Regions from separate parts of the Homo sapiens genome. Here region 1 is linked to region 2. Evidence: fine-mapped expression QTL. Tissue or cell type: esophagus mucosa. Region 2 holds a variant in brackets; the other region holds the start of a gene. All regions are shown on one strand. Distances are from middle to middle.

The links. PIP is the estimated chance that this variant, and not a neighbour inherited with it, causes the effect.
Region 1: it holds the start of SS18L1, and the variant in region 2 is fine-mapped to the expression of SS18L1 in esophagus mucosa (GTEx, PIP above 0.99). The same link has a PIP of 0.9 or more in sun-exposed skin and unexposed skin.

What each region holds. Positions count from the first base shown.
Region 1 is chr20:62,140,973-62,146,113 of GRCh38, reverse strand. It overlaps SS18L1 (SS18L1 subunit of BAF chromatin remodeling complex), which reads right to left and starts at 2,345. Exons shown (of 11, transcript NM_198935.3): 1 at 2,225-2,345. The coding sequence starts at 2,293. PSMA7 (proteasome 20S subunit alpha 7) reads left to right here and starts at 2,720. Exons shown (of 7, transcript NM_002792.4): 1 at 2,720-2,906. The coding sequence starts at 2,811. RefSeq lists silencers at 1,869-1,918, 1,949-2,008, 2,129-2,838, 2,879-3,518.
Region 2 is chr20:62,102,048-62,107,188 of GRCh38, reverse strand. It overlaps LOC105372706 (a long non-coding RNA gene), which reads left to right. Exons shown (of 3, transcript XR_936963.2): 3 at 4,306-5,141. Among named protein-coding and RNA genes, the nearest start is that of LSM14B, 18 kb to the left of the region's middle. The variant C/T (reference allele first, on the strand shown) is at 2,814.

The DNA of each region.
Region 1 (5,141 bases), 39 kb before region 2:
TCTCCTTCACTACCAAGCAGAATGCTGTAAGGACAAGTTGTAGACCTCCTTCTCCTTCACTACCACGCAGAATGCTGTAAGGACAAGTTGTAGACCTCTTTCTCCTTCGCTACCACGCAGAATGCTGTAAGGACAAGTTGTAGACTTCCTTCTCCTTCACTACCACGCAGGCTTCAGAGGGGTCCCTGGCTTCTCTTAAAGCTCTCGGCATGACACTACCAGCACACACTGTGGACACAGCACACGTCTGAGGCATAGAACATACACCTCTCACACCTTTCTCAGCCTTCTCACACCTCCCAGTAAAAGATCCCTGGGTACATATATTCACCGTCAAAACACCAAGCCCAATACGCAGACTGCTGGCCCTACCAAGCCAAGTCAGCAGCCTAAACTGAAGGCCTATTTCCAATGGTCAGCAGGCTGAGTTTCTGCCCAGGGACCCACGGTCCACAGGTGCATTTCTTCCTTTCTGATCTGATGTTCGGGGCAGCACCTCAATACACACTTTTACCTGGAGAATTTGGGGAGCTTCAATGGAACTGTGTGCGAAGTGCAAATAATGGGATAAACGTTGCAGCCAAAGGTAGCTTCAGGAACAATGACTGTTAAGCTCCAAAAAACCAGAGTGCCAGGAGATGCTCTGGGTTCCAACATTTGCCTCTGAGCCTAGAGCTTGACCTCCGCCTGGCCAAATGTTCCCAGATCAAGGGGCACCAACAGAGCAGACCCTGGAGCCACCGTATGGGATCGACACCTGGCTGTGCCACTTACCAGCAAGGCATTTAGCCCCCCTAGGCCTCAGTGTCCACTTACCAGCAAGGCACGGCCTCCCTAGGCCGCAGCCTCTTTAGCTATTAAACGGGATGCCAGTAGCTTCTATGAAGAATTGGATGAATCAAGATTTATAAAACCCCTAGAACAGTGTCTGGGATACGGTAAGCGCCACATAAGTGTTTACTAAGTAAATTAAAATGCCACACTTGTAAATCTGTATTTCTGCTATTCTCAATCTCTCCTGTTCAGAGTTGGCCAAGGTTCTCATTTGTTAAGACCATCAAATTTCTAAAACTAGCAACAGCAAAGGTAGTCTCAAAATAGGCGATAGATTTAGGACAACTTCCACAGGAGACTGGCACGTCATCAAGGAATAACAGCCTCAGTCAAGGTCAAGGTGAACCCCCTTAGGGAGACAAGCGGCTCCTGGGAACCTAGGAATACCACTGTTTATCCCTGCAATCCCACCAGGGTGAAGACGGAGTCAGAGTTTAGGAAAAAAAACCAATGTCATTCCAACAGATGTTGTGACAACTGAAACGGGTATGGCTAATGCTGATTTTCTTCCGAATCTGTCTTCTACAGAAAAAACAGCAGAAAATACAAAGTCTCAATTTCAAAACTTAGGGCTTTGGATAACGGTGTCCCAAACCCACATAAACGCTGTCTCTTGAAAACCACAAGGCCGAACTTACGGAGCTAGAAGAAAGGTTGTGGAGCAAATCCGTCAAGTTTGTTAGGCGAGGCGGCTGGCGAGGGTGTCACGCTGAAACCCGGCGTAGCCGCGAGGATACGGAGGGGGCGGTGCGCTCCCTACGGGGCCGGGCTGCGTAACGATGCCCCGCAAATGGGGATCGGGACGCGTCCTTCCGTGCCTCCATCGTTCGCGCCTCGCTCCAGGAGCAAGAGGGGCAGCCCCGGCCACAGTCCCCGCGGTCGCAAGTGCGCCCGGAGGCCGACCCGGGCCCCTCACCACTAACCAAAATGAGCGCAGAAAACGAGTACCGCCCGCCGTCGCCACCGAAGCTGGCTGCGGAGCGCGACAAGCCCTCGCCGCGGCTCCGGCCCCGAGGGGTCCCCGTGCGCCCGGCATAGCCCAGGACAGTTCCCAGCGCGCGCCGCGGACTCGGGGGACAGCGCGCTCGGGGGCCGGCAGCCTCCAGCGTCCGCCCGGCCCCCACCGCCCAGTGCCCCGGCCCGAGGGACCCGCGCGCCCCAACAAAGTTGGCGCAGGCTCTCCGGGGACCGCCCCCCACACGGCCGGGTGCCCGCCGGCGCGCAGGCGTGGGACGCGGGGAAGGGCACGGGGCCGCCGTCGGGGCTCGCGGCCGCCCGGCTGCGCCCCGGCTTTGTTCGCGCCCCGCGCCCGCCAGCTGCCCGCGCCCCGTCCCCGCGCGCGCCCGCCCGCAGACCCGCCGCCCAGCGCCGCCGCTCCGGCCCGGCCCACCTTCTGGATGGTTTGCTGCGTAACCTCCCCTTTGCCTCTTGGCCGGGCAGACGCGAAGGCCACGGACATGGTGGCGGCGCGGGGCTCAGCCCGTGGTCATCGAGGTGGATACTCCGGCTGCGCTGGGCGGCCCGAGGCGCTCATTATCCGCAGTCGCGGAGGGGGGGAAGGGGGCGGGAGCGCGGGGGGCGCCGCGTCGTGGGCTCGTCCGCCCCGTCGCCGTCGCCGCGCCTCCGGGCCCGCGGCGCCGCCGCTCCGCCCTGCAGAACGGTCTGCGGCCCAGTGCCGAACGGTGGCCCCCGGCGACCCCCTCGCACCCAGCGCCCGGCCCTCGCCGGAGCACCGCCTCCCACCCCCGGCCACCGGTGGTTCGGCCTGACCCCGCCCCGGCGCGCGCCATCACGTCCGCCCGACGCCGCCTGACGCTGCCCGTCGCCGCCTGACGCCGCCCGTCGCCGGCAGCGCAGGACACGGCGCCGAGGGTGGGGCGCGGGCGTAGTGGCGCCGGGAGTCGCGGGTGCGCGCGGGCCGTGAGTGTGCGCTTTTGAGAGTCGCGGCGGAAGGAGCCCGGCCGCCGCCCGCCGGCATGAGCTACGACCGCGCCATCACCGTCTTCTCGCCCGACGGCCACCTCTTCCAAGTGGAGTACGCGCAGGAGGCCGTCAAGAAGGGCTCGACCGCGGTGAGGCGGCGGGGCCTGCGCGGGGCCGGGGACGCGGGCGGAAGTGGGGCTGGGGAGCCCAGAGAGGGCCGGGGCCGGGCGCGGCGCTGTGGGCGCCCGCGGGCGTGCGCGGGGCAGCGGCGCGGGCGGTCAGGGCTGTAGCTGAGCGCGGGCCCCGCTGCCGGTCTCCACGAGTGCCTGCAGAGGCGGCGTTTGGCGTGAGCCGCGAGCGCTCGTTCTCCCCACTCAGCGCCTCGCTTGGGGCCCGGCCTCGCGTGGGGCCCCGGGCACGGGGGCCGTGACGACGCCATCTTGAGCACCCCTGGCCCCGGCCGGGCGCGTGGGTCGCGCCGCCGCCCCGGCGAGCAGAGGCCGGGCGAGGGCCGCTCTGGGCCGCGGAGCGCGGGGGGTAGGCCGTGCGCTCGCTGGGGGGCTGTTCACGCAGCCGGGTGGCTGGGGAGCGAACTACTCAAACCCCCCTTATGGGGACCCCCACCCGCTCCGGGGCAACACTTATTCTCTAGGCCCAGGTGGGCTTCGAGAACAAAGCGGCTCGCTGGCCTGGCCGGTGGCGGGCGCCTCCCAGGTCTCCGCACTCTGCCGGGAGGAGCCTTCCCGGGGCCGGGCTGCAGCCGCCCGGGTCAGGACTGGTTTGGACGCGGCCGTTTCGTTTTGACGAGGGCTCGTGTACATTGACCTTAGTGACATTGTTTGAAACTTAAATTCGTACCATCAAGACGTGTCAGTTTAATTGGTCAGTCTGTGAGATCGTTATTCTTTTATCATCTGGTATTCAGAGGTTTGAGCAGGCAGAGAAAGCAGCACACACGGTTCTGTAAATTTTGATTTGTTTTCATTTTCTGAATCTTTGTTTTGAAATGAAGGCCCAGTATTCATCAGGTGATCTAACTCAGCTTAAAGAGGACTAGGAGTCGGCTGACCCCTGTACCCACCCCAATACTGCCACCCCCGCCAGCTGGCCGCCGCTGGCTTTAACGAACCCATATAGCTTCTCTGGGCCTCGAGTCAGTCGAAGGTCAAGTGAGTCAGTACCTGAGAAAGCTCCCAGAAAACCCAAACACTTCAGATCAATACTTCTCAGCCAGGGATGGTTTTGGGCCCACACGGAGCCACTGGCAGTGTGTGGAGACTTTTCCAGTGGTAAGACCTTGCAGAGGTGCTCTTGGCATTTGGAGGGTAGAGGCCAGGGACGCTGCTCAATATCCCACCCGTGCTCAGGGCGGCAGGCACAGGGAGATCCCCCTGCCCAGGTGCTCACAGTGCTGAGCTGGAGAAGCCCTGCTCTAAACCAGGAGGCGCTGTTTATCCCAATGATGGTTCCCTTTGTTTCTGGCTTGACTCGGGTTGACTGTCAGTGATTGTTCATGCTTTTAATAACAGCCATATCCTTCTCCAGCATCAGCCATAAACAGTTTGGGATAACACTTGACACCTTGTCCACTGACGGCAAATCAGGCCCCTTCTCATGGCTGTCACATGAGTATGTCACAGTGCAGGAAACAGTGCATTGTGGCTCAATATAATTTCACAACTACAGAAACACTGCCTTCAGAACACCAGACTTGAGTGAAAGTCTCAGGCTTCCAGGCTTTGCATGGGACTGATTCATTGGGTTGAAAGGAAACACATGCCGATTATATAATGGTTACTTACTAGCTATGTTGTAACTAAAACTACATCTCAGTATTTGAAAGGCCCAGGTTGGGCACCTAGGTGAGCACGCCTGGGCTAGCTCTACCAGCAGTAGATGAATACCCCTGGGTTTGCAGGATGTGGTGCCAGCCACAGTGACAGACAAGTAGAGGAGAAAGGGGTGTGGGTGAACGCACCTTCCAGTGGGAGCTGCTACCCGGAGTACGTACCCCCCAGGACCCAGGTTCAGATCTGCTCCTACTGCTCGCTGCCTGGCAGTAGAACCATGTATCACTTTTTTGGGAGGATAGGGTGGGGTGAGGGGACAGGGTCTTGCTGTCTCTGTCTCCCAGCCGTCATGGCTCACTGCAGCCTCCACCTTCCAGGCTCTAGCGATCCTCCCACCAGCCCCCACAGTAGCTGGGACTACAGGCTTCAGCCACCACACCTGGCTAATTTTTGTACTTTTTGTAGAGACAGGGTTTTCCCATGTTGTCCGGCTGGTCTTGAACTCTTGAATTTAAGTCATCCACCCACCTCAGCCTCCCAAAGTGCTGGAATTAACAGGCATGAGCCACTGCACCCAGCACTCATATCACTTTC
Region 2 (5,141 bases):
AAATTGAAGAATGCATGGAGGTTAACGAGGCAAAGACAGGAAACTGCATGGCAAAGGTCCCGTGGCAGAAGGGAAGATGGCACCTCTGGGGAGCTAGAAGGAGACCAGAGTGGCTGGAGGGGCAGAGGTGTAGGTGGCGTAGAGTGAGGTAAGGCTGGGAGGGTTAGGGTGGGAGAGTGGGGGCACAGGTATGGGTGGGCCAAGGAGAGGCTGGGCAAGGGGCAATGGGGAGCTTCAAAAGGTTCGAGTGAGGCCCCTTATGTCTGAAGACCAGGCAGGGACATCTCTGCAGAATGCATCCCAGGGCAGGCCCAGTCCCCAAGAAGAGCTCGAGCAGAACACTTTTTTATCTTTTTTTTTTTTTTTTTTTTTTGAGACAGGATCTCGTTCTGTAACCCAAGCTGGAGTGCAAGGGTGCGGTCACAGCTCATTGCAGCATCGACCTCCTGGGCTCAAGTGATCCTCCTGCCTTAGTCTTCTGAGTAGCTGAGACTACAGACATGTACCACCATGCCCAGCTGATTTATTTATTTATTTGAGACGGAGGTTCACTTTTGTCACCCAGGCTGGAGTGCAATGGCGCGATGTCGGCTCTCTGCAACCTCTGCCTCCTGGGTTCAAGTGATTCTCCTGCCTCAACCTCCTGTGTAGCTGGAATTACAGGCGCTCACCATCATGCCTACCTGATATTTTTATTTTTGTACAGACAGGGTCTCACTATGTTGCCCAGGCTGGTCTTGAACTCCTCTGCCTCCCAAAGTGCTGGGATTACAGGCGTGAGCCACCATGCCCGGTGTCATCATCTTAATGATTAGAACATTGCCAAGTCCACAGGGGTTCAAACATGGTTGATTTATCACTCTGGTAGTGAGTCTAGTTCAAAGTCAGCATTAGCCTCTTGAATTATTTATAAGCTAAATGTGTAAACATGAAGAATTTAAATAACAATGTAAGGTTATTTGTAATTATGTCCAGAAATAAAGGTTATAGGCAAGAACTTCTTGAGAACAAAGAGAAAGAGAAAAGTAATGTGAGAAAGGCCTTTGGATAAAGGTTTTGGGGGTGTAAAAGGCAACAACCCAGTCCTAAGAAAATAGAGTTGAACTGATATTCAGCTACACACGCATCTATCCATGCATCCACCCACGCATCTACTCATCTGCCCATGAATTTGCTTATCCTTCTATTCATGCACATATCCATCTATCTACCTACCCACCTATCTGTTCATTCACCCATCCATCTGCCCATCCATCCATCCATCCATCTGCACATCCATCCATCCATCCATCCGCCCATCCATCCATCCATCCATCCATCCATCCATCTACCCATCCATCCATCCATCCATCCATCCATCCATCCATCCATCTGCCCATCTATCCATTCATCCATCCATCTGCCCATCTGTCCATCCATCCATCCATCCATCTGCCCATCTATCCATCGACCCATCCATCCATCCGTCCGTCCATCCATCCATTCATTTCTATTATTCATTCATACATTTATGCATTGTCTTGGGTCTGGAAACACAATAATGAACTGAACACAACAGGGCTCTCCCTTGCGGAGCTGGCAGAGATCAGCTGCAGCTGGTGGCAGAGACCAACGTATACCCAAGTGTGTGCTTGAGATGGGGTAAGGCTTCTTGATAGGCAGGTGCAGGCTGCAGGGAGGTGGGGGGAGCAGGATGGGGGCGCTGCTCCCTCTAGGAAGGTGAGAAGGCCTCCCAAGGAAGGAGCCGGTGTGATGGGGCTTCTCTCTGCTCCCAGCAGACGCAGACCCTCCCCACACTGGCCTGTCCGCTCCTCCTCCTCCTCCATCTGGGGCCTTTGCTCAGCCCATGGTCTTGTCTGGAAAGCCACCTCCCCTCTACCTGGCTGATTTCTGCCCGTACTCCCACCTCTTCCAGGAAGCACTCCCTGATTAGTATCCACGTGACCTGTGTTTCTCAGAAATGCTAAGAACATTCACTGTTTGGATGAAGAACACAATATTTTTTTTTCTTTCACATGCACTGGATGACTTCACCGTGTTTACTGTCTTTGGTTTTGTTCCAAAGTGGTTGTAAAAGTTGGGCCTGAGATGTGCAAACATCATTCTTGGTTGCTGTTTGTGCGCCTGGCTGAGTCCAAGTCCTTACAGGCAGTCCCTCCTGCCTCCCGTGTATCCCTCACTCCCACCTCCCCCAACACCTAACTCTTCCTCCTTTCCCAAGGGCTCCCTCCCACCTCCCCCTCCTTTTCTCCACCTCCCCTGCCTCCCACCTCCTCTTCCCATTCCACCCATCTCTTGTCTCCTTCCTTCCACACGGCTCCTCCCCCGGCCCCCCTGGGCTCCCTTCCCTTCTGCTGAGTCCTCTCCTGGGAACTTCAGCTTTCCCCTCTCTTCAGAGCCATCCCTAGTAGCCCCCAAGTATCCTGCAATTTTGTCCACTCTAAACCCCCCTCCCGTAACCCCCTATCCCCGGCAAGCTTGCCTCCTGTTTTCTGCAAACGCCAGAGGAACTGCCCCTGCAATCACTGCCATTCTGCCACAAGCTGATGCTGTCGTGGTCAAGGTCACCCATGACTTCCTGGAGATTAAGTCCCTTAAGCTGTCCTCTGGGGTGGGGAGGGGCAGCTCGGCCACAGTCCCCCCTCCTACTGCTGCCGGGCTCCCCAACATCCCCTGGTTTCCTCTCTCTGCTGGCCCCACTTCTAGTCTCCCTCGGGTTCCTCCTGGGGCTCAGCGCCCAGTCCTGGCCTGGCCATGTGCAACCTCACCACGTGGGGGCTTCTCCCTGAGCTGCAGCCCCCATGGCTCCCGGA[C/T]CGCAGGTTCCCGTCCCCCTGGGGCTGCGTGCAAAGGACTGCAGTTCTGATGCCAGGGATGCAGATCTGTCTCCACCCGCCCCAGTGGCATCGGTCCCCACCACCAGTGCTCAGGCAAAGGCCCTGGAGCTCTCCATGACCCCCACGTCGTTCTCTCACAGCTGGGGCCAGGAAATCTCAATGCCTTGACTTTCAACACCTATGCAGAATCCAACGACACCTAACCTGCAGCCACACGGCCCCCGCCGCGGCCACCTTGCTTGTGTTACAGGAGGAGCCTCTGCCTGGCCCTCCTCTGCCCTGGCCCCTCACCTGGTGCACACAAGGCCAGGGGGGATCCCTTCCGGAATGTGGAGAGGCCTGGGGATCTGCCCAACCGCCCACCTCCCTGTTCCTCCCCCTTGAGGTGCCACTCGGGTCCCCCTGCTGTCCCCTGAGGACACTCCTGCCTTGGTGCCCTCTCATCTGCTGCCCCTGCCTGGAGACTCTTCCTCCAGACCCCACGTGGCTGGGCCTCAGCCTCCTCTGCTCTCGGAGAGGCCACCCGGCTCAAATGGCAAGCAGCTCCTCCCTGCCACCCTGGGTCCACCCTGCACTCAACCCATCTTTGCCTCATGTTCTTTCTGGCTCCCCGGCTGGCATGCCTACCCCGTGAGGGTGGCATGCGTCCCCAGCTCCCACAGCAGGCACGGAGGGGCACCAGCCCAGGCCTGAGGAGTGAAGGGCTCCGAGGCTGCCCCTGCACAGTGGAGGGGAGAAGGGGCCTAGAGCTGCCCCACAGTCACCCTAACTCCCTCGGCCCAGGGGTCATAGACTCACTAGTAGGAACGGTGCTAATGCTGGGGAGCGGGCAGATTTGAGGGGCACAGATCCTACCCCAGGGGGTGGGGCAGTTGTCACCCCAGGCCATTTTTTAAAAATTAAAAGTAAATTTTTATTTTACAGATAAATACATTGACACTCAGAAAAATGAAGTGGCTTGTCAAGAAGCCCCAGCTCTAAGCAGACAGACAATGCTGCTTTGTGGGAACTCGGCTCCAGAGCTGTTTTTTCTTTTTTTGAGACGGAGTCTCACTCTGTCGCACAGGCTAAGTGCAGTGGTGCGATCTCAGCTCACTGCAACCACCGCCTCCTGGGTTCAAGTGATTCTCCTGACTCAGCCTCCCGAGTAGCTGGGATTACAGGCATGCACCACCATGCCCAGCTAATTTTTTGTATTTTTAGTGGAGACAGGGTTTTACCGTGTTGGCCAGGCTAGTCTTGAACTCTTGACCTCAGGTGATCCACCTGCCTTGGCCTCCCAAAGTGCTGGGATTATAGGCGTGAGCCGCTGTGCCTGGCCCAGAGCTGGTTTTTAAGAGGAGCTGTGTGTTAGGCTGTGGGGTTTTTTTTGTTGTTGTTTCTTTTTTTTTTTTTTTTTGCATTGCTATAAAGAGATACCTGAGGCTGGGTAATATAAAGAAATAAGTTTAATTGGCTCACGGTTCTGCAGGCTGTACAAGCATGGCATCGCCAGCTGCTCGGCTTCCGGGGGTCCTCAGGGAGCTTCCACTCAGGCAGAAGGGGAAGCAGGAGCAGGCACATTACCCGGCGAGAAGAGGAACAGGAAAGAGTGCGGGGCGGTGCCACACGCCTCTAAACAATCAGATCTTGGAGAACTCACTATGGCAGGACAGCACCAAGCCACGAGGGATCTGTCCCCAGGACCCAGACACCTCCCGCCAGGCCCACTTCCAGCACTGGTAGCCACAGTTCAACAGGAGATTTGGAGGGGATGAACATCCAACCTATAGCAAGCTGGAAGTCTGAATGTGACGAGAAGTCTCCTGATTTTGTTTGTCGGCTACTCCTACAACTGCCCCATAACACTGTGCCCCGGATTCTTCCCGAGGTGGGAGGACCGAGGGCAGAGGCTCCTGGCCCAGTCACCCAACCCCACTTCCGGGCTTCAGCTCTTGGGCCAGGTGGGCACACTCTGTCTTCTTTTTCTTGTGCAAGTGACATCCCAGGTGCCATTTCTCGAGGTTGCCAGGCTTCCCAGCCTCTGGCTCCTGCTTGTGTCTTTGTAGGGGAGGTGGCTATGATGGTGACAGCACATTCGAAGCAGCAGTGGTTACAGTTTCCTTCTAAAAATACATTGAAGACAGAGTCAAATGTAAGGGGGTGACTTCTGGTTCAGCACAGCGTGCAGAGCACACGCTTCTCCCTGGATCTTGGACCACAGAGGGGACACTGCTGACCTTGCTCCTCTGGGGCATCCCCTCCCTAGACTCACGGGAGGACCACAGAGGACACGGCTGACCCTGCTTATCTGTGGGCATCTCCTCT